Linked DNA regions of Homo sapiens: regions 2 and 3 are each reported to be linked to region 1. Evidence: microRNA targets listed by miRTarBase, many of them from high-throughput screens and not tested one by one. Region 1 holds a microRNA gene; each other region holds the end of a gene's coding sequence.

Evidence for each region. Region 1 holds the annotated microRNA hsa-miR-874-5p (CGGCCCCACGCACCAGGGUAAGA, at 5,084-5,106, shown strand). A microRNA usually pairs through its seed, bases 2 to 8, with sites in the 3' UTR of a target mRNA and lowers its output. Matches are read on the target gene's strand: a 7mer-m8 pairs with bases 2 to 8, a 7mer-A1 pairs with bases 2 to 7 and ends in A, and an 8mer does both.
Region 2: the mRNA of VWA1 is a reported target of hsa-miR-874-5p. Seed matches in the 3' UTR shown: 7mer-m8 at 3,154-3,160, 7mer-m8 at 4,175-4,181, 7mer-A1 at 4,387-4,393 and 8mer at 4,521-4,528.
Region 3: the mRNA of PPM1F is a reported target of hsa-miR-874-5p. Seed matches in the 3' UTR shown: 7mer-m8 at 4,312-4,318, 7mer-m8 at 4,887-4,893 and 7mer-m8 at 5,542-5,548.

The regions. Positions count from the first base shown.
Region 1 is chr5:137,644,685-137,652,723 of GRCh38, reverse strand. It overlaps MIR874 (microRNA 874), which reads left to right and starts at 5,075; the gene lies at 5,075-5,152. All of the region lies in intron 8 of KLHL3 (kelch like family member 3), which reads left to right.
Region 2 is chr1:1,436,823-1,444,861 of GRCh38, forward strand. VWA1 (von Willebrand factor A domain containing 1) reads left to right here. Exons shown (of 3, transcript NM_022834.5): 2 at 105-662; 3 at 2,259-6,060. The coding sequence ends at 2,965. Among named protein-coding and RNA genes, the nearest start is that of VWA1, 5.2 kb to the left of the region's middle. RefSeq lists enhancers at 3,991-4,040, 4,657-4,806.
Region 3 is chr22:21,917,408-21,925,446 of GRCh38, reverse strand. PPM1F (protein phosphatase, Mg2+/Mn2+ dependent 1F) reads left to right here. Exons shown (of 8, transcript NM_014634.4): 8 at 1,976-6,022. The coding sequence ends at 2,355. Among named protein-coding and RNA genes, the nearest start is that of PPM1F-AS1, 17 kb to the left of the region's middle. RefSeq lists enhancers at 3,565-4,223, 4,885-5,544, 7,720-8,039.

The DNA.
Region 1 (8,039 bases):
ATTTCTCCCATCTCACTGAAATTTCATATCCTTTGGTCAACATCTTCCCAGCCAACCCCTTCCCCTATCCCTTGGTAACCACCATTCTATTCTCTACTTCTATGAGTTTAACTTTTTTAGATTCCGCGTATGAGTGAGATTGTATGTTATTTGTCCTTTTGTGCCCTGCTTATTTCACTTAACGTAATGTCCTCCAGGTTCATCCATATTGTCACAGATGACAGGATTTCCTTCTTTTTTAAGGCTAAATAGTATTCTACTAAATATGTATACCACAGTTTCTTTATGCATTCATCTGTTGATGGACATGTAGCTTGATTCCACATCTTGGCTCTTGCAACTAATGCTGCAGTGAACACAAGAGTAGATATCTCTCTGACATACTGATTTCATTTCCTTTGGATATATACCCAATAGTGGGATTGCTGGATTATATGGTAGTTCTATTTTTATTTTTTTGAGCAAGTTCCACACTGTTTTCCATGGTGGCTGTACTGTATTTGGAAGTGCATAAGTTTTTAATTTTTCAATTTTTTTCTGTTATGGTTTATTTTGTGCTCTATATAAAAAATCTTTGCCTAATTTGAAGTCACAGATTTTCTCCTATACTTTCTTCTAGAAGTTTTAGGTTTTACACTTAGGCCTATGGATCCATTTTGAGAAGTTTTTTTTTGTTGTTGTTCTTAATATGGTGCATGAGGTGAGAGTCTAAGGCTCATTTGTTTTGCATATGAATGTCCAGTTGTTCCACACTATTTATTGGGAAGATTCTCTGTTCTCCATTGAATTACCCTGTCACTTTTGTTATAAATAATTGACTGTATATGTGTTCGTCTATTTCTGGACTCTCTTCTGTTCCATTTTATCTGTCTACCTTTACACCAATACTATGTTGCCTCGATTACTAGCTTTCTAGTAAGTCTTAAAATTAGGCAATATGAGTCCTCCAGTTTTGTTCTTCAAAGTTGTTTTTGTGAGTCTAGGTCCTTTGCATTTCCATTAAATTTCAGAATCAACTTGTCTATCTACAAAAAAGCTTGTAGGGGTTCTGCTTGGAATGGTATTGAATCTCTAGATCAAATGGGGGAACTGCCATCTTAATAATATTAAATCTTTAGATCCATGAACACAGCATAACTCCATTTATGCAGGTCTTCTTTAATTTCTCTCATCAGTGTTTTATAGTTTTCAGTTTATGGGTCTTACATGTCTTTTGTTAGATCTATCCCTGGGTATTTTATTGTTTTAGATGCTATTGTAAATGTTTTCTTTTGAAATTCCAATTTCTAATTGTTTATTGCTGATAGGTAGAAATGTGATTGATGAGAAAGGTTATTTAATGGGGGAGAGGTCAGGTTGGTGATGGCTTCATTGCTTTTTGAACAACAAGGACAGTAGTTTCAGAAGATTACTGAGTAGCCCAGGCTGATGCCTCAGGCAGGCATTTAGGGCTCTCTTCTAGAGTGTTAGCTCCTCTACGCAACTGTAGGTTCCATGGCAGCAGGCATTACTCATCTGTGTCCTTGGCACACGGCCTCAATTAAAGAAATACATTTTTAAAGAAGAAATAACCTCATAGAGACTTAATACTGACCATTTATATCACCCCTCATTTTTTCCTGATGGGCTTATCAGCATTCATACCTGCGTTTTCACATGGCTTTAGTGAGGATTTATATCCTACTTTATATCCTCCTTTGACCACTAATGTAGGTTGACCCTAGAATGTTTGATTCAAGCCTACAAGTCCAAATTTGAATGAATCCAGTTGTCGTTCCTGGGGGTTAGAAGGGTTGTAAGGTTCTTTGTTTCTTTTCTTTCTTTCTTTCTTTTTTTTAAATCTGAAATCCAGCTATCAACAATCATGTATGCATTAATTCATTACTTTTTTTTTTTTTTTTTAGATGGAGTTTTGCTCCTGTTGCCCAGGCTGGAGTGCAATGGCACGATCTTGGCTCACTGCAACCTCTGATTCCTGGGTTCAAGCGATTCTCCTGCCTCAGCCACCCAAGTAGCTGGGATTACAGGCGCCTGCCACCATGCCCGGCTACGTTTTTTGTATTTTTAGTAGAGATGGGGTTTCACCATGTTGGTCAGGCTGGTCTCGAACTCCTGACCTCTGGTGATCCACCTTCCTCAGCCTCCCAAAGTGCTGGGATTACAGGCATGAGCCACCGTGCCTTGCCAATTCATTACTTTTTAATTCACTCATCCAACATACTTCCATAGAGAAACCACTAATTGCCAGGCACTGGGGTAAGTACTGGATTCACGAAGGCTGATATGAACTGGTCTCTTCCCCAGGGGACTCCCAGACCAGGAGGAGGGGAAACAGTTGTGAAAGGACAATTGCAATGGAGTGAGTAAATGCCCTCATAGGGGTACAGGAAAAACACTCTGGGAGCACAGAGAGGGGTAAGGAGTTAAGGAAAGCTTTCTGCAGGAGCTGACAGGAGCTGTGTCTCCAAGGTAAAACGCAAATTGTCTGTGAGAGTGAACATCCAGAAACTGGTTCAGGTGACTGCAGGAGAAAACTGGTTTACACCCTCTGGTGACCACTTAGAATAATTTGTACTTTGCATCTTCTTCCCTGGGTCATTGTCCTGGTCATCATCACCAAAGGTATTGATGATGATACAAGTAGTATTGTTTAAATACTAATTACTGAGCAGCTTCTTTGCATTATTAGCCTAAGTATGTAATGCCCATTATCTTATTTTGTCTTTATTACAACTCTGGAGGCTTTAATGTTGGAGACAACTGAGAATCGGTGAGATTGAGTAAGACTGAGTGATTTGCCCAGGGTTTTACAGCGCTTAAGTGGCAGTGTGAGGACTTGAATCCAAGTCTGGCTGACTCAAAGCCTGGGCTTTTAATCACTACATGATACTAGTACCCACAATAATGATAACAGCAGATATCAATTACTGAGCACTTATCATGTGCCAGCCACTGGGCTAAGTGACTTATATTTGTTATCTCATAGGATTTTCATAACTGTAATTATCCCCATTTTGCAGATGAGGAAGTTGGACCTTGGGTTATGTCACCCACTTATTATGCATTAGTTATCTATTTCTGCATTACAAATTACCCTACGATGGCTTAACACAATAAACATCTATCATCTCACAGTTTCTGTGGGCAGGAATCCTGGAGTGGCTTAGCTGGGTCCTTTTGACCCAGGGTCTCTCATACAGTCAAGCTGTTGGTCGGGGTGCAGTTATTTCAGGCTTGTTTGGGGAGGATCTGATTCTAAGCTCACTCATGTGGTTGCTGGCAGGCCTGTTTCTTGCCATGTGGGCCTCTCCATAAGCTGCTTGAGTGTCCTCATGACATGCTGGCTTTCTTCCAGAGAGGGTGATTCTAGAGCAAGAAAATGAGAGCACACATCTAACACAGAAGCTGTAGTGTTTTTATAACCTAATGTCAAAATCCATGTCCCATCACTTCTGTCTTTTATTTGCTAGATACAAGTCACTAAGTCTAGCCCACACTTAAGGGGAGAGGTATTAAGTTCCACGTCTGAGTGTAGTAGTATCACAGAATTTGTGACCCATCTTTAAAGCACAATTAGTAAATGGCTGAGTTGAGGTTTAAGCCTAGGATGACTGGCCCGAGGCCCTGTGCTCTGAACTGTTTTATTATATTGCTTCCAAATGTCACAAAAGCATTATAGCCGAATGCTGTGTTGAAAGAAACCTGATTCCTGCCCTTTGGGGACTTTTAATTTTAAGAAGTCTCTCTGAGAAAGTAAGATAGACATATATGAACAACCAAATAAGTAGAGAAAGAAGAAAAATCAGGAGATAATTGGACTAGTTGGAGAAGCAGGCATAGGAATTCCAAGGGCAGGCTGGTTTGTGCTTTCATAAATTCAGTCCAGATAGGCTTTCTGGCAGAGCAAACTTTGAAAAACAACATGGTGGAGAGAGACCTGCACTATATTCAGTAATTCTCAGCAGTAACTCTGTTTGCCAGCCAAGTCCTTTCCCTGAGAGGAACAGGACTCTGCCTTGAGATAGCTGCAGAGGCTAATAAAGGTGTTTTTCCTGAGCCATATATGCACAGAGCATACTGACACATCCCAGCCGGAACAGCTAACAGCATCATCTTGGCTCCCACACATTCACCGCCCAGCACTTTTCCTGAGGCTGGGTTGCCATGGACAACCCGAGGCTGTCTCCCAGCCACTCAGAAGTCTCCTACGTTACCCTGTTCCACAGATGGCAGCAAGGAAATGAGGTTTCAGGAAGATGCAAATGAACCTTTTGGAAATGTACTGAACCTGGCACTTTTCACTGTCATTCCAGTTCAGTTGGCATCTCTATTCAGCTCTTTAAAAATGCTACTGAAACGCCATTTGGGCTGGAAGTGGGTGGCTTGCTCCTGAGTTGGGCTGTCCTGCTTTCAGTAGATGGTATTTGAAGAAGCTGTTGACAGGGTGGATGGGATGACCTCTCATTTGGCCCAGGCCCCTGGATGGGCACTGCCCCCTTCCACCTTGGTCCACACCCTGACAAGCACCCTGGGGTCCTGAAAAAGCCCCATAATCACCCCTAGAATTAGTGGTACTTACCCTCCCTCACAGGTTCATAGTATCCTTTTCTACCTTTCATTGGGAATCTGTTTTTTAGCACCTGCCTTAGAAGCTAATAATGACACTAGTGTTAATCAGATAACATTTAGTGTTTACTATTTATCAAGCATTGTGCTAAGTGCTTCATATCATTTAAGCCTCCTGACACCCATATGGGAAGCATCCTATTATCCTGATATTACAAGTTATGAAAATGAGGCTTAGCAAGGTTCAATGTCTTGCTCATAGCCACACAGCTATATAGTGACTGGGCTGATACTATATTTGGGCCCAGATGTGTCTGATTCCAAAGCCCATTTTTTCCACTCCTCTTCTCTCCCCCCGGGCCTTGCCCTCATATTACCTGGTTCTCAGACCCCCATTTTCTCTGCACCTTGCTATCAGTACTTGCCTAGAGCAACTGTTGCTCAGGAACCTGCTTGGACAAGTCTTCTGGCTCGACCTCGACATGCTCCATCGGATGAATTGTTGGTGTTAGCCCTGCGGCCCCACGCACCAGGGTAAGAGAGACTCTCGCTTCCTGCCCTGGCCCGAGGGACCGACTGGCTGGGCCTGCCTTCTGCCCAGCTCACCGGTCACAGAAGAGAGTTTGGACATGCATTCTACTCTTGCCCGATGAAAAAAGTGTGTAGAGCCCAGATTGTTCCTCTCACCTGAGTAGAAATTTGAATGACCTATGTAGTCCTGAGGCCAGGGCTAGGGTCTTGATCTACACGTAGGCTGGAAATCTCTATTCTCTTCATGGATTGTCCCTTTCCCTGGCTAGTCCCTGGCACCTAATGGCTCTCAGACACAGGGTGGTTGTGATTTCGGTGAGGAGGGACCAACATGCCTTCAATCCCACAGTCACGCTGGTAGAATCAGAATCATCTATGTAAACAAGAGAGCATTATATATTTATTTTTAAAAATGTTATGCTGGGAGTAAAATTTCCTTCCTAAGGAATCAGGTAGTCTTTTGCTTGGGCTCACTAATCTTCCTAAAATAAATGGCTATTTGACTTTTCAAAATGACAGTGTTTTCCTTGGGAGGTATCTAATAACCATCTCTGCTACAGTGGAGTTCAGCTCACTCATATTCTGTCAACCAGAGAACCTCCATTCACCAGAACTTCTGCAGCCTTCAACACAGTGACAGTTGAGACTTGGGATCAGAACTTTGAGGCACCCTGCCAAACTCCTAAGTATGCTGCAGTTCACGAGAGTGATTAAATTATGTTCAGTCTAGCATAATTGTTCACCTAGAGCCAGTTCTTTAGTTTGTGATTCCTACGTGACTGATAGTTCTTACTCAGGGTTACCTTGAAAGATAAATGTTAAAAATAGTGATCATTAAATAAGCTGATTTGATTGAGTAATTTCTAATAAAGGCATATTAATCTTAAGTATATTGGGGTTTAGGAGTGTTGGGGAAAGAAAGAAACATGCTTGTTGAACTCCCTGGGCCTGGGTGTTTCTGGAATATAAAATGAGGGCATATAGGAGAGAATGGTTCAAGTCTCTTCCTCTAACATCTTGTGGTCTTCTTAAGTAGCTAGAAGTTTGTGATTTCAGAGATGTGATACATGTAGACTGTGGGAAATACTCGTATTTGCCTAACTGCTTGCTAACATCAGGTATCCATGGAAACAACTATCCATTAGCACTCATGATAGGAAATTTATTCTTTTTACTCTGCATGATCAACACAGTAGTGGGTGTAGTGCTCCATGTATGAGTGCTTCTTGCAACACCTACCATAAAAATTGGATTTCTTTTGACCATACTGGGCTGTACTAATTTACTTTCCCACCAGCAGGGTATAAGAGTTCCTCTTTCTCCACATCCTTGCCAGCAGTTATCTTTTGTCTTTTCTGCAGTAGACCTTCTAATTGGGGTGAGGTGATATCTCGTTGTGATTTTCATTTGCATTTCCCAGATAAATAGTGATGTTGAGCATTTTTTTTCATATACTTGTTGGTCATTCATATATCTTTTTTAGAGAAATACCTGTTTAGATCTTTTTGCCCATTTTTGAATCAGATTATCTGTTTTTCTGTTATTTAGTTGTTTGAGTTCCTTATATATTCTGGGTATTAACACCTTGTCAAATGTGTGCTTTTGGCATGTTTGTCGAAAATCAGTTGGCTGTAAATGTGTGGATTTATTTCTAGGTTCTCTAATTTTAGATTCCATTGGTCTATGTGTCTGTTTTTATGCCAGTACCATGCTGTTTTAGTTACTCTAGCTTTGCTGTATATTTTGAAGTCAGGTAGCATGATGCCCCCAGCTTTGTTCCTTTTGCTCTAGATTGTTTGGCTATTCCCATATGAGTTTTAGATTTTTTTTTTTCTTATTTTTGTGAAGAATGTCATTGGTAGTTTGATAAGGATTACATTGAATCTTTAGATTGCTTTAGGTAGTATGAGCATTTTAACATTATTAATTCTTTCCATGATCATGGAATATCTTTCCATTTATTTGTGTCCTCTTCAATTTCTTTCGTCAATGTTTTATAGTTTTCATTGTAGAGATCTTTTACCTCTGTGGTTAAATTTATTCCTAGTTATTTTATTTTTTTTTGTAGCTATTGTTAATGAGTTTTTTTCTTTATTTCTTTTTCAGATAGTTCACTATTAGTGTATAGGAACACCACTAAGTTTTGTATGTTGATTTTGTATCCTGCCACTTTGCCAATTCATTTATTCATTCTAATAGTTTTTTGGTGGCGTCTTTAGGCTTTTTAATATATAAGATCATATTCTCTGCAAGCAGTTTGACTTTCTCCTTTCAATTTGAATGTACTTCATTTCTTTCTCTTGCCTGATTGCTCTGGCTAGGACTTCCAGTACTATGTTGGATAGAAGTGGAGAAAGTGGGCATCCTTGTCTTGTTCCAATTCTTAGAGGAAAAGCTTTCAACTTTCCCCTTTCTAGTATGATGTTAGCTGCGGGTTTGTCATATATGGCCTCTATTATGTTGAGTTACATTCCTTCTATTTCTAATTTGTTGAGAGTTTTTATTATGAAGGGATGTTGAGTTTTATCAAATGCTTTTTCTGCATCTATTGAAATGATTATGTGGTTTTTGTCTTTGATTCTGTTAATGTGACGTATCGTTTTTATTGATTTGTGTTATATTGAACCATCCTTGCATCCCTAGGATGAATCTATTTGATCACGGTAAATGATCTTTTCAATGTGCTGTTGAATTTCATTTGCTAGTATTTTGTTATGGATTTTTGTATCTGTGTTCATCATGGATATTGGTCTATAGTTTTCTTTTTTGTCATGCCCTTGTCTAGTTTGGTATTAGAGTAGTCCTGGCTTCAAAGAATAAATCTGGAAGTATTCCCTCCCTTTCAATATTTTAGAATAGTTTGAGAATAACTGGTATTAGTTCTGCTTTAAATGTTTGTTAGAATTCAGCAGTGAAACTATCAGGTTCTGGGCTTTTCTTTG
Region 2 (8,039 bases), not on the chromosome of region 1:
CAAGCATCCACTTAAGGAAAGCTGGGGCCCTGGGGGACCCTGCCTTGCTGTGGGGCTGTCTGGGGGGCCCACACCTGAGGCTGAGCATTCCTCCTTTCCCCCAGGTCCACCAGCATCAGCCCCCCGAGGGGACCTGATGTTCCTGCTGGACAGCTCAGCCAGCGTCTCTCACTACGAGTTCTCCCGGGTTCGGGAGTTTGTGGGGCAGCTGGTGGCTCCACTGCCCCTGGGCACCGGGGCCCTGCGTGCCAGTCTGGTGCACGTGGGCAGTCGGCCATACACCGAGTTCCCCTTCGGCCAGCACAGCTCGGGTGAGGCTGCCCAGGATGCGGTGCGTGCTTCTGCCCAGCGCATGGGTGACACCCACACTGGCCTGGCGCTGGTCTATGCCAAGGAACAGCTGTTTGCTGAAGCATCAGGTGCCCGGCCAGGGGTGCCCAAAGTGCTGGTGTGGGTGACAGATGGCGGCTCCAGCGACCCTGTGGGCCCCCCCATGCAGGAGCTCAAGGACCTGGGCGTCACCGTGTTCATTGTCAGCACCGGCCGAGGCAACTTCCTGGAGCTGTCAGCCGCTGCCTCAGCCCCTGCCGAGAAGCACCTGCACTTTGTGGACGTGGATGACCTGCACATCATTGTCCAAGAGCTGAGGGGCTCCATTCTCGGTATGCGGGAGGAGGCAGGGCCCAGGGAGCCCTAGCTGGGAGCCGCAGAAGGAGAGGCTGGGTTGAGACTTTGGGAAGATCTCATGTCCCCAGAGCAGCGGCCAGGGCCTCCGGGGCTGTGGTACCCCTAGGGTGCAGGGCTGAGTGATGCAGCTTGTCTATGCACACTCTTCACTGGGCGACCCGTGTACCCTGCTGAGACGGGGGCAGGCTTGAGTAGCCACCTCCAGGTGTAGCTCCCTGCTGATGTGTCCAGCCCAGACCTCGAGGCCCCAGGGAGTGCAGAGCCCGGGTGTAGGCCCAGGAAGAAGCTTCCAAGTCTGGGGACTCTGCAGATGGGCAGCATGTGCTCCTGAGCATGCCCACCATACCTGGAGAGGGGTGAGCCAGAAAGGTCAGGGACTGCCCCCCCAGAGAGCACAGGGCACCTCTCCTGGGTGGGGACAGCCGCCGAGGGCTTTGAACTAGTTCGGACTGCAGGCCCACTGTGAGGGTTTCCTGAGAGGCCGGACCAGGGAAGGCCTGAGGCAGGAGCTGAGCAGCTCCCATTGGCTTTTTTTCTGGACCTCCCTGCCCCAGCCAAGCCCTGAAGGAGCTGGGGCTGGAGATGAGGAACCGGCCACTGGCTCAGCCTGCTGCAGCCACTGAAAAATGCCAACCCTGGGGATCTCACCAAGTCTCCGTCTGTGGGTTAATCATCCACCCAGAGCCGGAAGGGGTTGGACTGTGGGTTGGAGAGGGGTGGACGGCCCTCCCCAAGGTTTCCCCAGGGACGTCTGGCCCCTAGTGGCCCCAGGTCACCCAGTGCAGCTGCGCCTGGAGGGGACCAGGAGGAAAGGCTGCCTTAAGCAGCCAAAGGAAAAGCCTGAGGCTGCAGTGCCGAGGGGCCAGGCAGCAGGGTGGGGGCTCCTGGGAAAGAGGCCGGGTCTGAGGGTGGGGGATGGGAAGAAAGTGGCCCAGGCACCCAGCACTGCAGGAGGAAGATCCTGATAGCTTTAACCCAGCGCAGACATTTATGAGCCTCGCCACAGCAGGGTCACTCAGAGGGCTATGTGGGGCTTGGTGTCACAGGTCCAGGAGTCCCCCTCTGGAGAACCCCACCCCACACTCTCCTGGGGACCCAGGGCAGGCAGCGCCTCCAGAACCCCAGGGCCTGCCCCTGTGGTCTCCCATCTCCTAGCTGCAGCTCAGAGAGCCGGGCTGACCTCAGACCCCGGCCTGGCCACTCAGGCTGGGGCTGGTCCTCTGCTCTCAGGCACCACCGTGGACTCTGCCGTCTTTGAGGACCTTTGTCCTGGTCACTGATCTGGCCACTGCACCTCTCCACAAAGGACTGGGTTTGGGGCTAAGGGAGGCAGGGGCGCTTCTGACAGGGCCTGAGGGGGCTGCACCCTTTCCTCCGTCCTCCCCCAGCCAAGGCACGTTCTGAGAATCCCCAGCATCTGCGGGGCATGGCTCCAGCAGCTCCTTGGCCGCGGGGCCCCGTCTTTCCTAGTGGGGCCTCCAATCTCCAGATCTTCCCCATCAGCCAGGGCCGCCCTCCAGCAGCGGAGGAGGAACTGACCGCTGTTCCCTGACCCCCTGCACCACCCACAGACGCGATGCGGCCGCAGCAGCTCCATGCCACGGAGATCACGTCCAGCGGCTTCCGCCTGGCCTGGCCACCCCTGCTGACCGCAGACTCGGGCTACTATGTGCTGGAGCTGGTGCCCAGCGCCCAGCCGGGGGCTGCAAGACGCCAGCAGCTGCCAGGGAACGCCACGGACTGGATCTGGGCCGGCCTCGACCCGGACACGGACTACGACGTGGCGCTAGTGCCTGAGTCCAACGTGCGCCTCCTGAGGCCCCAGATCCTGCGGGTGCGCACGCGGCCCGGTGAGGCAGGGCCGGGGGCTTCGGGCCCGGAGTCGGGGGCTGGGCCGGCCCCCACGCAGCTCGCCGCCCTCCCCGCCCCAGAGGAGGCCGGGCCAGAGCGCATCGTCATCTCCCACGCCCGGCCGCGCAGCCTCCGCGTGAGTTGGGCCCCAGCGCTGGGCTCAGCCGCGGCGCTCGGCTACCACGTGCAGTTCGGGCCGCTGCGGGGCGGGGAGGCGCAGCGGGTGGAGGTGCCCGCGGGCCGCAACTGCACCACGCTGCAGGGCCTGGCGCCGGGCACCGCCTACCTGGTGACCGTGACCGCCGCCTTCCGCTCGGGCCGCGAGAGCGCGCTGTCCGCCAAGGCCTGCACGCCCGACGGCCCGCGCCCGCGCCCACGCCCCGTGCCCCGCGCCCCGACCCCGGGGACCGCCAGCCGTGAGCCGTAAGCCGGCGTCCCCGCCCAGCCGAGAGGGCCGGCGCCTACCTGAGGGCCCCTGTGTCCCGAACCCGGAGCGGAGGCGCCCAACCCGGCAGACGGGTGCAGGCCCGGCCTTTCCCCACGCGGACTCCGCGCGACCCCGGCCCTCTCCCTGCGGCCGCAGGGCTTCCCCGCCTGGCGCCTGCCCTCCAGGGCTGGGGCCTCGCCTGGCGGGACCCCGCAGCAGCCCCGGCCCCATCCCCGCCCAGAGCCGGGCGTCGTGTGGGTCCGTGGGTGATAATTGAGAGCGTCAGACCCAGGACTGTTCAGGGAGGAGCCCCGGTCAGACTCCCACGTGTGAAGACCGGGCCCCAAGTGGCAAGGGCTGGCCTGGGGCGGGCAGCTTGGGTCCTGGACGTTGATAGGAAGCGGAAGGGGAATCGCGGGAAGCTGGCCCAGGTCAGGTCCGCAAAGGCTTCTGAAGAAGAGGAAGGGCGAGTAGGGGCACCTGGACGCTGATGGTGGCCAGGATGCTCAGCTGGCCAGGAGGGCAGCACCTGCTGGGGACGGTGGCCCTGCCTTCATGCCCAGGACACCAGCTGGGTCCAGCTAGCAGCCACTGGGAATCAGAGGAATGGGGCAGAGCTGGGCATTCAGGACCTTGAGGACACGTGACCCCACCCGCCCACCGCCACTATCAGGCCCCGGGACCGCACTGACAGGAAACCTTCCGTCGTGAGGGAGCACTTCCCAGGGGCCGCAGGGACGACACTCTCCAGGGAGGCCCCAGCAACCACACCATCTTCTTGCTGTGAGAGGTCTCACCCCGGGCTACCTCCTGTCACTACTCACTGCCCTGGGGTCCGTGGGCAAGTTGCCCAGGGTGGGGGTGCCTAGCCAGGTGCAGTCCCCGCCCCGCCTAGTCCTCGGCGTCACGCAATGCTCACCTCGCCTCTTCCCCACTAACATCCCAGACTTTAAAATTCAGTAAATCAGATGTACACCGAGCCTGCAGTCTCGCTAGGATGCTTTACTCCTCCACAAACAGCAGCCGCCGACAGGACAGCTTGTGAACGTCTCCGCCTTTTGGGGTGTCCGGGGAGAGGAGGTGGAGCTGTCCCCTCCCAGTGTCAGGCCTCCTTGGTCCTCATGTGCACCTTTTATTCAGAGAGCTTGGGCCCCCTTCCTTTGGAGCTGGGCCCAGGGCAGGTGGCTGGAATGCAGAGGACAAGGGGGCTGGGGCCTCTGCAGGGCCATTCCCACCGCAGTCTCTGCCACGGCCCGGAGCCCTGGGCCCAGGGCCACGCGGGCTCCCTCTGCTGGCAAAGCCACACCCTGCACCGCATGGGGTCCACTGCCCCTTTCCCCACGTGGACTCTGCGTGACCCCAGGAACTGCAGCATTGAGGTGGTCTCAGTCCCTCCCTCAGGTCTGGTGGGCATTGTGCCAGGGGCCACCTTCGGGACAGCTGGCCTTGGCACCGTCTCCCAAGAACCCAGCTCTGTGCATCCCGTGGCCCCACCAGAAACCCAAGGCCACACCGCCCACCAGCTGGGTGTGGTCACCATTCATGGAGGGCCGGCTGGGGCCAGGCTCACCACGCAGAGTTTGCCCTCCGGTGTGATGATGCATGAGACACAGTAGGCCCCCCTGCCTGTGTGTGCAGGGGGTGTCTGTGGGGGGGCCCTGCTGGCTGGACTTTGGGTTTCTCCTGAGCTCCCCTTAGCCCCCAAGTCAGGCCACGGAGGCCTGAGTAGGACCCATGGGCTGTGTGTGTCACTGCAGGTGGCGTGCTCACAACTGCACTGCTGGTCGGCAGGTGGCCAGGGTTGCAGGCCCGGGCCTCGGGCCCCACCTCCTCTGGAGGGGTAGGATCTCCTTCGTGCAGCCCCTGCCCCCTACCCTGTTCTCCGGAGTGTTGGCAGATCTGAGCCCACGGTCACGTGAGAGGAGATGCCTCTTGCACACTGAGCCCAGGCCCAGCTCACGGAGCACCCTGCAGGTGGCAGCGGGGCACCAGGGGCTCATTCCTGGTGGCCTCAGTGGCTTCTGTGGACGACTCAGACTCACATGAGAAGCTGGGAGGAGCTCCAGCTCTGCAATCCCGAGAGGGCAGAGCGGGGGCCCTGGCCACAACCCTGCTCCCCACATACCCGTCTGGCAGAGGCTCTGCCTCCCCTCTGCCCATCTCTGCACACCAAGGCTGAGCACAGCACAAGGCCTCACGGAGAGGGTGAAAAGGCACTGCCGTCTCCATCTCAGTGCCAAGGAATGCCCCTTTCAGAAGCCCTCGTCTGAGAAGTGCTGCCCCTTATGTAGCCCCAGGCATTTTAAAATCTTTGAATCTGCACCAAGTCTCAGAACAGCTCTGGCCCCGGAGTGCTCCGTCCAGGCCGCTGTGAACCGGCTGTCCCCGCGTCTCCTCCACCTCCCCTGACACAATCCTGGCCCCGACTCAGTCCACCCAGGGTGCAGTGCAGAGGCTGATACCCGCCAGGACTTCCTTGCCAAGGGCCCGGCCACGTCACAAGGCCACTGCACGCTTTTCGACATGCACCTGGAAATCGGGAAGGGCCATGCTGCAGTTGCTTCTAGTTGAGACGAGAAGAGCGACAAGGTTGTGATCCACGTGGCAGGTGTTCAGAAGGCTGGGGGCGGGCAGCGCTGGGGAGAGCCCTGGGTACTTCGAGGAGACCCCGAAGGGAGGCTGCTCCCACACCTGCGCCAGTTTCCACCCTCTCTGTGAGCAGGGCTGCGGTCACCTCCCACATCTGAAGAGAACCAACCTGAGGATTTCACGCTGGCTGCGTGCCAGACCAGTCCCTGACAGGTTGTGCGAGGCCCTTCGCTGGACAGCCCATTGCTGGCCACTGGACGGAGAGGCAGAGGGGGCTGAAATTCGGGCCCATGCCTCTGTGAGCGATGACGGAGCAACAGCTCTCCAGCACGTGAAGCTCTCCAGACAGCTGTTCGTGAGAAGCCAGACAGAGGCCTGGGGTCTCAGTCCAGATTTCTGGGGAGTGGGGTGTCCAAGCGTGGGCCACGCTGCTGGGAGCCACCTAGGGAAGCAGGTCGCCTGTTTCTATAGTGACGGTAATAAACCAAGTCAATTTTCTATAGTGACGGTGATAAACCAAGTCAATTTTCTATAGTGACGGTGATAAACCAAGTCAATTTTCTTTTCTTTTCTTTTCTTTTTTTGAGATGGAGTCTGGCTTTGTTGCCCAGGCTGGAGTGCAGTGGCACGATCTCGGCTCACTGCAAGCTCCGCCTCCTGGGTTGACGCCATTCTCCTGCCTCAGCCTCCCGAGTAGCTGGGACTAACAGGCGCCTGCCACCACGCCCGGCTAATTTCTTCTATTTTTAGTAGAGATGGGGTTTCACCGTGTTAGCCAGGATGGTCTCGATCTCCTGACCTGGTGATCCGCCCGCCTCGGCCTCCCAAAGTGCTGGGATTACAGGGGTGAGCCACCGCGCCCGGCCAAACCAAGTCAATTTTCTATAGTGACAGTAATAAACCAAGTCCAGTCCCCGAAGCACAGCCCACATGACAGCCTCCCGCCAGAGAGAGGACAGTTTAGGACTGTCAGCTCCCGGGCAGTAGCTGTGTGTTTCCTGCTTTTTTGGGGGGTGGGGGGAGACAAAGTCTTGTTCTGTCACCCAGGCTGGAGTGCAGCGGCGCAATCTCAGCTCACTGTAATCTCTGTCTCCCAGATTCAAGCGATTCTCCTGCCTCAGCCTCCTGAGTAGCTGGGATTACAGGTGCCACCATGCCCGGCTAATTTTTGTATTTTTAATAGAGACGGTTTCACCACGTTGGCCGGGCTGGTCTCGAACTCCTGACCTCAGGTGATCCAACCGCCTCAGCTTCCCAAAGTGCATGGATTACAGGTGTGAGCACCCTGCCTGGTCCCTTTTTTTTTTTTTTTTTTTTTTTTTTTTTTTTTTTTTTTTTTTTTTTTTTTTTTGAGACAGGATCTCACTCCTAGGCTGGAGTGCAGTAATGTACTCATAGCTCACTGCAGCCTGCATCTCCCAGGCTCAAACGATCCACCTCAGCCCTCCGAGCAGCTGGGACTACAGGCGCACCCCGCCACGCCCAGCTAATTTTTGTATTTTTAGTAGAGATGGGATTTTGCCGTGTTGCCCATGTTTGTCTTGAACTCCTGGGCACGAGTGATCCACACACCTCAGCCTCCCAAAGTGCTGGGATTACAGGTGTAAGTCACCACTCCTGGCAACATTTTTTTTTTTAGGGATAAGGGTCTTCCTGTTACCCAGGCTGTTCTCAAACTCCTGACCACAAAGGATTCTCTTGCCTTGGCCTCCCTCAGTGCTGGGACTGCAGACAGGAGCCACCGCGCCTGGCCTGGCACTGCTGCTTTCGTTTGCCTCTCGAGAATCAGTGCACTTTGAGGAGTGCTGGCAGGGGCTGATGGCTTTCAGGGAGCCCTATGGAGAACTGGGAGCCCTGCTTTTGGTGGGTGGTTGGGGCGGACCAGTAGCCCAGGGCCATACACTGGGGGCCGTGGCTCAGGAGGGTCCAGTTGGGCAGCTCTTCTTTTGGTTGTGCGAGGACCTGCCCATTGGGGAAGGAGCAGGGGGCCCATGCTGGCCCAGGCTGAGACCAGAACGAGTGGGGAAGGAGCAGGGGGCCCATGCTGGCCCAGGTTGAGACCAGAACTACTGGGTCATTTTGGAAGCTGGAGAGAAGGAATAGGAATGGGACCTGCCCCTCCCTCCTGAAGGCCGGGCCCCCGAGAAGAATGAGGCTGCAGAGTGATGTGGGGGCCAGCGGTGACTTCATGACCACACTGCGCCCAGGTGTAAGAGGGCACGCTTCTGCCCAGGCATCGTCCATGGAAGACACGCAGTCGGCCACTGCAGCCTCGGTCCTGGGTGCCCTGGGGCTGGGTCACTGGGGGCCACAGGCCACACTGAGAGACCACAGTCCTGGCATGCCATGCAGCTCCCTGTCCCCAGAGGTCTGCTCAGATGCAGAGAGCTCAGGAACCACACTCGCTGCCTGAATTCTGGGAGCAGAGCGTGGTACCCACTGCCTGGCTGGGGCCTACTCTGGGACTGCAGCCCCTGTCCCCGCT
Region 3 (8,039 bases), not on the chromosome of region 1:
TGCACTGGGGTGATACCCTCGTAGTGTGAAGGGAACAGGGCAGATTCAGAGACTGCAGCACCAGTGTCTGAGTGTAAGTTACACTGTATGTTATTATCTCACCTAAAACAGCTCCTACAAATCTCATAGAAACCTGTGGCTCACCACCCTATGGGCTGGAAGTAGAGCTTCCAATATTCCGGAAATGAGGTTTATCCTCCTCCCGCGTTCATGCTGACAATCCTTTTTTCTCTTTTGGGAAAAAAGTGGGTTCGCTGGGCGCGGTGGCTCACGCCTGTAATCCCAGCACTTTGGGAGGCCGAGGTGGGTGGATCACCTGAGGTCGGGAGTTCGAGACCAGCCTGATGAAACCCCATGTCTACTAAAAAAAAAATACAAAAAATTAGCCAGGCATGGTAGTGAGCCCCTGTAATTCCAGCTATTCAGAAGGCTGAGGCAGGAGAATCACTTGAACCCAGAAGGCGGAGGTTGCAGTGAGCTGAGATCGCGCCACTCCACTCCAGCCTGGATAACGAGGAAAACTCTGTCTCAAAAAATAATAATAAAAATAAATAAAAATTTTAAAAAGTAATGGGTCTGGCTGGGCATGCTGGCTCACGCCTGTAATCCCAGCACTTTGGGAGGCCAAGGTGGGCGGATCACCTGAGATCGGGAGTTCGAGACCAGCCTGGCCAACATGGTGAAACCCCTTCTCTACAAAAAATACAAAGTTAGCCAGGTGTGGTGGCACGCGCCTGTAATCTCAGTTACTTGGGAGGCTGAGGGAGGAGAAGTGCTTGAACCCAGAGGCGGAGGTTACAGTAAGCGGAGATCGTGCCACTGCACTCCAGCCTGGGCAACAGAGCCAGACTGTGTCTCAAAAAAAAAAAAAAAAGTAGCTGGGCGCGGTGGCTCACGCCTGTAATCCCAGCACTTTGGGAGGCCAAGGCGGGTGGATCACCTGAGGTCAGGAGTTCGAGACCAGCCTGACCAACATGGTGAAACCCCATCTCTACTAAAAATACAAAAAACATTAGCCGGGCGTGGTGGTGCCTGCCTGTAATCGCAGCTACTTGGGATGCTGAGGCAGCAGGATCACCTGAACCCTGGAGGTGGAGGTTGCGGTGAGCCAAGATTGCACCATTGCACTGCAGCCTGGGCGACAAGAGCGAAACTCCATCTCAAAAAAAAAAAAAAAAGTGGGTCCAGCCTGCATCTCATTGTCTCAGCATGCGGTCAGTGCCGGGTCTCAGGCTGTGGGCACTGTGACCACACCTCCTTCCTGGTACTTAGAAAATCTCTCCCTCCCCAGCTGATTGCCAGGGATTTGGCACCTACCCCTCTGAAACATTCTGTCCTTTTTGGCAGATGTGGCACCTTCTTGACAGCCCATCCTCAGGCTGTGTCTTTCCTTGTGTCTCTGGACACTCCAGGAAGTGAGGCCAGGATGGGACGGCTAGGGCAGAGAAAGAGGGAGCTCGGCCTGGTGTGGTGGCTCATGCCTGTAATCCCAGCACTTTGGGAGGCTGAGGTGGGCAGATCACAAGGTCAAGAGATCGAGACCATCTTGGCCAACATGGTGAAACCCCATCTCTACTAAAATACAAAAAAAAAAAAAAACAATTAGCTGGGCATGGTGGCGCGAGCCTGTAATCCCAGCTACTCGGGAGGCTGAGGCAGGGGAATCGCTTGAACCCAGGAGGCAGAGGTTGCAGTGAGCTGAGATCGCGCCACTGCAGCCTGGCGACAGAGCAAGACTCCATCTCAAAAAAGAAAAAAGAAAAAAAGGGGGAGCTCACAGGCCAAGGTCAGGGGTTTCCGTTCCCAGGCAAGTGGGAAGTACTGGGCAGTTTGCATAAGGGAGCAACAGACCCCAGACCCCATGAGAGCAGGTTGGTCTCTGTCCCTGCAGGATGTGAGGTCTAGGCCTGGGTAGGTGGGGAGGAAGCTGTGGACACCGTGGTCCTCTGACCCGGGCTCTTCTCCGCCTGTCCAGGGGATGTCTTCCAGAAGCCCTACGTGTCTGGGGAGGCCGATGCAGCTTCCCGGGCGCTGACGGGCTCCGAGGACTACCTGCTGCTTGCCTGTGATGGCTTCTTTGACGTCGTACCCCACCAGGAAGTTGTTGGCCTGGTCCAGAGCCACCTGACCAGGCAGCAGGGCAGCGGGCTCCGTGTCGCCGAGGAGCTGGTGGCTGCGGCCCGGGAGCGGGGCTCCCACGACAACATCACGGTCATGGTGGTCTTCCTCAGGGACCCCCAAGAGCTGCTGGAGGGCGGGAACCAGGGAGAAGGGGACCCCCAGGCAGAAGGGAGGAGGCAGGACTTGCCCTCCAGCCTTCCAGAACCTGAGACCCAGGCTCCACCAAGAAGCTAGGTGGTTTCCAGGCCCCTGCCCTCCCCTTCCTCCCATCCTTGTCCTTCTCTCCCTCAGAAGCCTCAGGACCCAACAGGTGGCAGGCAGTGGACAGGGTGCCCGCCCCACAGTGCTTTCCCCAGCACCCCAGAGCCAGTCGGGACACCCCCCGCAGCCCGTCCTGGTGGCTGTGGAACTGCACTGGGTGGCGGGCAGATGGTGGAAGGCAGCTTAGGAGACCTCACCAAAGAGAAGATGGACCGGCTCTTGCTCCCAGCTCCTATTAGGCCCGGGGTGGGACCAGAGGTCATAGGTGCCCAACGGCAGCCAAACCAAAGACACTGGTGTGCATGGGGCAGCATGGTTGTGCACGTGGGACCCTGGGGCGGACCCAGGAGCCAAACTCTTGAAGCACCCCCTGGGTCAGGCCCAGCAGCGGAGTGGCCAGCCCCAGTTTCCCATTGCTCCTCTCTGCGGCCAGGGCCAGGTGGGTTCATATTTACAGATATGCCCAGCCAGTCCTGGTCGGCCACACCAGTGTCCCAAAGAGGAGAGCGCAGCAGAGCCAGGGGTCTGTTCTGTAGCAGCCACCCCCCTGCCCCCACTCCAGGGCAGCCATGATGTGCTTGGGCCCACCAGGGCCTTCCGGGCTGCTCTCTTCCCTGAGCCCGGAACCGGCGACGCACATGTGTCTTTTGTTGGTGTGTTTGTTTTTTTCCAGGGAGGTCTAATTCCGAAGCAGTATTCCAGGTTTTCTCTTTGTTTTATCAGTGCCAAGATGACCTGTTGTGTCATATAATTTAAGCAGAGCTTAGCATTTATTTTATTCTTTAGAAAACTTAAGTATTTACTTTTTTAAAGCTATTTTTCAAGGAACCTTTTTTTGCAGTATTATTGAATTTATTTTCTAAATCAGGATTGAAACAGGAACTTTTCCAGGTGGTGTTAATAAGCCATTCAAGTGCCTTACACAGCTTTGAAGAAACTAGGACTGCAGTGGGCTCGGATAGGCCCATTGAGGTTTTTAGAAAAGCAGGATTTGTTTTGTTAGGGAGGCATGATTTTGGTGAGATCTTTCTGGAAGAGTTTTCCGCCTCTTTGTGATGCTGAACACCCCCAAGGTTCTCCCCTCCCCCCGCTGCCCAGGTGACTGGCAGGAGCTGCGACTGCCACGTAGTGGTGCCTGGGCCCGACAGCGGGGCTCTGGGCATCCCGGGTGACCTTGGCCCATCTGCCTGCATTCCCACCCCCTTGGGCCTGGCTGGATCCCAGGCAGAGGGACCTTGCTGCTGTGTGATTGGAACATTCCCAAATATCTTGTGAATTTGTAATCAAATTGGTCTCATTGGGAAAGACTCTTAATTAAGAGGCTCAGGCAAGCACAGAGGCAGCCCGTGGGTCTCTGTCTCAGTCTGGAGGCAGCAGGGATGCTGCTGGGAGTCCATGGCACAGGCCACAGCCCCTCACCTTGCCGCGGTGGCTGGCAGCACGCCTGCCTTGCTCTGCCCCATGCCCTGAACAGGCATGAGAGCTCCACGTCCCCTAGTGCACCCTGAGAGGGGGCTCACAAGTGACCGATCCTGGGTGCCTCAGGGAGCTCACTGAGGGCGTGCAAAGTTGAAAGTGGCAAGGCTGGGGGAGGGTGTCGGGTAGAGGGAAGAGGGCAGGGGGCTAGGGGAGGACTCAGAGGCCATCTGCAGGGCCAAGCCACAGGAAGGGCTGAGCTGGAGGTGGGCAGGGCTGCTCCAGGCAGGTCAGAGCAGTGCAGGGGGAGGAGAGGAGAAAGGGAGGAAGCTGGGCTGTGTGGTCCCCATGAAGGCATTCAGAGTCCACCTGCAGACAGCGAGAGCCCCAGGAAGGTTTGCACAGCTGTGCCCCAAGCACCTTGGCCTCCTCTCAGCTCGCCGAGGAGGCACGCTAGAGCCGCCTTCCCGGTGGGAGCCCTCTGTCCCACAGGGAGCGGGGAGCCAGCTTTGCTGGGGCCCTACCTGCATGCCCAGCCTTACCCCTCATTCTCACAGCACAGATGAGGTTGAGACCATGCAGTCAATGCATTGCTTAAGGTCTCTTATTTACAAAAAAAAACCTTAAACATAGTCGCTGTCATTCAGACATTCAGAGAATGGTTGGCCACAAACAATGACCAAGTATTGCTTGGCTTAACTTGAAGGCCTGCTGTCTCCTTCTGGGGGTCAGGGACGCAGCTCCACCCTCACCACTAGCCCACCCTGCCCGTGGGCATAACCTTGACGAAGAGAGAGAATGATTGGCATCTGCTTTTCTCTTTTCTTTGCTAATAATTCTGTTCCTGGCTGCCGAGAGTGAAGTTTCACCATGTGGAGGTTTGGCTCCTATCACCTGGTGGTCTGATTCATACCCTAGCCTGAGGCTCCACTGGAAGATCTCGCAGCCTCAGTGTATGGGAAACCCTTTCCCCAGGCTTGTCCCAGCACTGCCGCTCCCCACCCCTGAGCCAGGACCCCAGAGGATGGCCATGCCCCGTGCCTGGCAGAGGTCTGGTGCCAGCACTGGGAGCTGCTCCGCCCTTGCCTTGGGGCCGAGGGAGCCCTCGTCCACCCCTGCACAGCAGCTGGGCACAGAGGAGCGCTCTTCCATCTTGACCAGGACTGCACCAAGAAGCACCAGGTGTCTTCAGCCTCCAACCTCCGGGGCGACCTTCTCTTCCAGCCACAGTCCCATGAGGGCCCCTAGCCAGGGACACTGGTCTGTAAATTGTAATCCTTTCTCCAGCCCAGCTCTCCACTTGTTCCTTGTGTGAGCTGAGCAGGCAGTGCACCTCTGAGTGTCCCTTTTGTAAGGCCCAGGGGTTGCACTGAGTCTGCAGAGGCCGCGACCTCCTAGAACGCTGTGGGTGCAGGTGAGCCGGCGTGTCCTGGGGAGATGCTGCCAGCACACAGGGGCCCTCCTGCTGCCAGCAGGTTGGGGTGGTTAAGTCTTATTAGTGTCTATTCTTAAAATTAAGTGGGCTGGAGAAGAATGGAGCTCCACATGCCAGCACCGTATATGGAATACAAAAGCTGGGGAAGCAGGGCCTGCCTTACAGGTGTGGCTGACTCTGAGCCCAGGCCTGCAGGGGTGGAGGGCAGTCCCTCAGAATCCCAGAGGCAGTCCCAGCCTCAGAACCCAGGATAGGAAATGGGTGTGTTTAGTGGGGAAAGGGACGGGGTGCAGACGGCAGGGCCAGTATGGGGCCCCCTCCCTCTCCTCTCCTCTCCTATGGTGAGCCCAGCGTGGGCACCGGGCCGTCTCAGCCGTGTTCCCAGGGCTGGGAGGACAGCTCTGGCCCTTCTTAGGCCTAGCCTCGTCCCAAGCTAAATGTAAGCCAGTTGGGCTGTGTTAAAGGAAGCAGTGTTTTTGGTTCGATTCTGCCTCTGTAGCTCAAGGGGGGCAGCCCCCAGAGTCCTGTGCATTCTGCCAAGGCTCCATAGCTTTGCCAAATGCACGGAGCTCTGCCATTCCGGTGCAGTGCAGGCCTTGCGAAGGGTTTATCTGCGTTCGTCTCGGTGGGCTTCTCCTGCATGGGAGTTGTGTTCCTGTGCAAGGGGGAGCTTTGCTCCAGGACAGGATGACTGTCTTCCCTATTCTTAGGGACAAGTCCCAAGATGCCAGAAAGGCAGTCTCCCAAGGACCCACCATGCAGAAGTGTCAATAAACCACAAGTTCTGAACTCTGTCGCCCGAGTCCTGCCTTCTTCCTGACTTCTGAGCATCTTGTCCCCTTTGATGTCCAGATGTGTTTGGAAGCTGCTTTAATATTGGGGACCATCTGCAAATCTTGCGAAGCGAGCAGACAAATTCTGGAGAGAGCCCTGGTGGCCTACACCCTCCTGGTCTAGCCAGCAACCTGATTTTCCTCCCTGAGGGGCTCTGAGCCCACCCCCACCAGCAGCAGGAAGGTGACAGGAAAGGGATTAAGCCCCTGGGACCTCACATGACATTGGGGAGCCACAGGAGCATTGAGGACCCCTCATTTTATCCAGGAGCCTGATGTGCCCCAGGAGGTTCCATCCTGAGGATGGAGACCCTCTGACATGACGCTCTTGAGGCCCACCATTTATACCCTCCTGGCACCTCCTGAGGCCAGGTGTGGTGGCGCACACCTGTAATCCCAGCACTTTGGGAGGCTGAGGTGGGAGGATCTCTTGCGCTCAGGAGTTTGAGACCAGCCTGGGCAACATAGGGAGACCCCCATCTCTACAGATAATCAAAAAATTAGCCCCAGTATGATGGCACAAGCCTGTAGTCCCAGCTACTTAGGAGGCTGAGGCAGGAGGATCGCTTAAGTTTGAGGAGCTTGAGGCTGCAGTGAGCTAGGATTGCGCCACTGCACTCCATCCTGGGTGACAGAGCAAGACCTTGTCTCAAAAAAAGAACAAAGCACTGAGCCTTTCTTCTGCCCCCTGCTCCCGCCACCCCGCTCCGCCATCCTCGAAGCCTGCATGGCACTTGTCCCACATGGGAGCTCGGCTGCCGCCCAGAAGTGAATCCACTGCAGGTTCACTGCTGGTGCTCCCTGAGGGGCAGGGTTATAGGGGGTTTTTTCCTCCCCCCTTTAGGTTTTCTTCTAAATCCTAATTTTTTTTAGTACGGTGAACATGCTTTAAAAATGCTTTTATGTAATCTGTCATGGGAATTTTAAGGGAAAAAAAAGATAAAAATGCCTTAACAGAAGACCTGGAGAGATCCACCAGCAGCAGGGGTGGGCAGTGCTAAGCCCTGGGGTCCTGGTAGAGAACTAGGAATGGCAGTGGTGGCTGCACTAGGTGGGGGAGCGAGGCTGAGGGGGTGGGGAGCAGCGCTTCGGTGGTGGGCAAGCCTCACTGTTCCTGGTGGAAGGGACTGGCCCCTGATGGCTGCTTGGACAGATATCAGAAACTCACCTCAGGACCACCACACCTGATGGATTTTAGGGAACCCCCCACAAGGCCCGCCCACCTGCCTCCCTTTGCTCTAGACCTGTGGCCCCCAACCACAACCTCCAGTCCAGACCTCTGTAGCCTCACCCACCCAAGGACGGCCAGCAGCAAAATGCAGGGCCTTGGCCCGAGCGTTGCTGCTGGTCGCTTAGCAGGCTGGAGGGCTGGTTCCCCCTGAAGCCCCAGGATAGCACGCACAGGCCCAGTCCCATGTGGCTGCAGCTCCTAGCACACATGAAACTGCTCTTGGAGACGGCTTCAGAGCCTTCTCAGTGCCCTCAGGGGGTCAGTATTGAAGCAGCCAGTCGTGGGACTCTGTCGACCAGTCCTTCAGCGCATGTTGGCCAAGTGTTTGCCACGCTGCTGCAGGTGCTGGGGCAAGGGATGAGCCAGCTACCAATTCCCCACCTAAGACAAAGAGGATTCGGCTTATCACACAGGGGTCAAGTGCCCCTAGGCCGCAAAGCTGCTAAGGGGTCCAAGCCTTGGAAAGTCACCCTTCTCAGAGTCCCCAATTCTTCACTGCCTTTTGATCTTTGGTTCCTTTCTCAATCAAGAGAAAGCAAGGCAGCAGGGGCCGGGAAACTCGCCCTTGTGCTCCTGGCTGAGCTCAGGCTTCAAGGGCACACAAACATCAGAAATGCCTCCCCGCAGACACTGCCCAGCCACGGCCAAAAGTGCTGCCCTGAACTTCTCCGTAGAATGTGGGGGAGGCCCTCAGGCTTGTGGGCGCATGGGAGCAGCTGTCCTAGGGCTGCCTGAGCCCGGT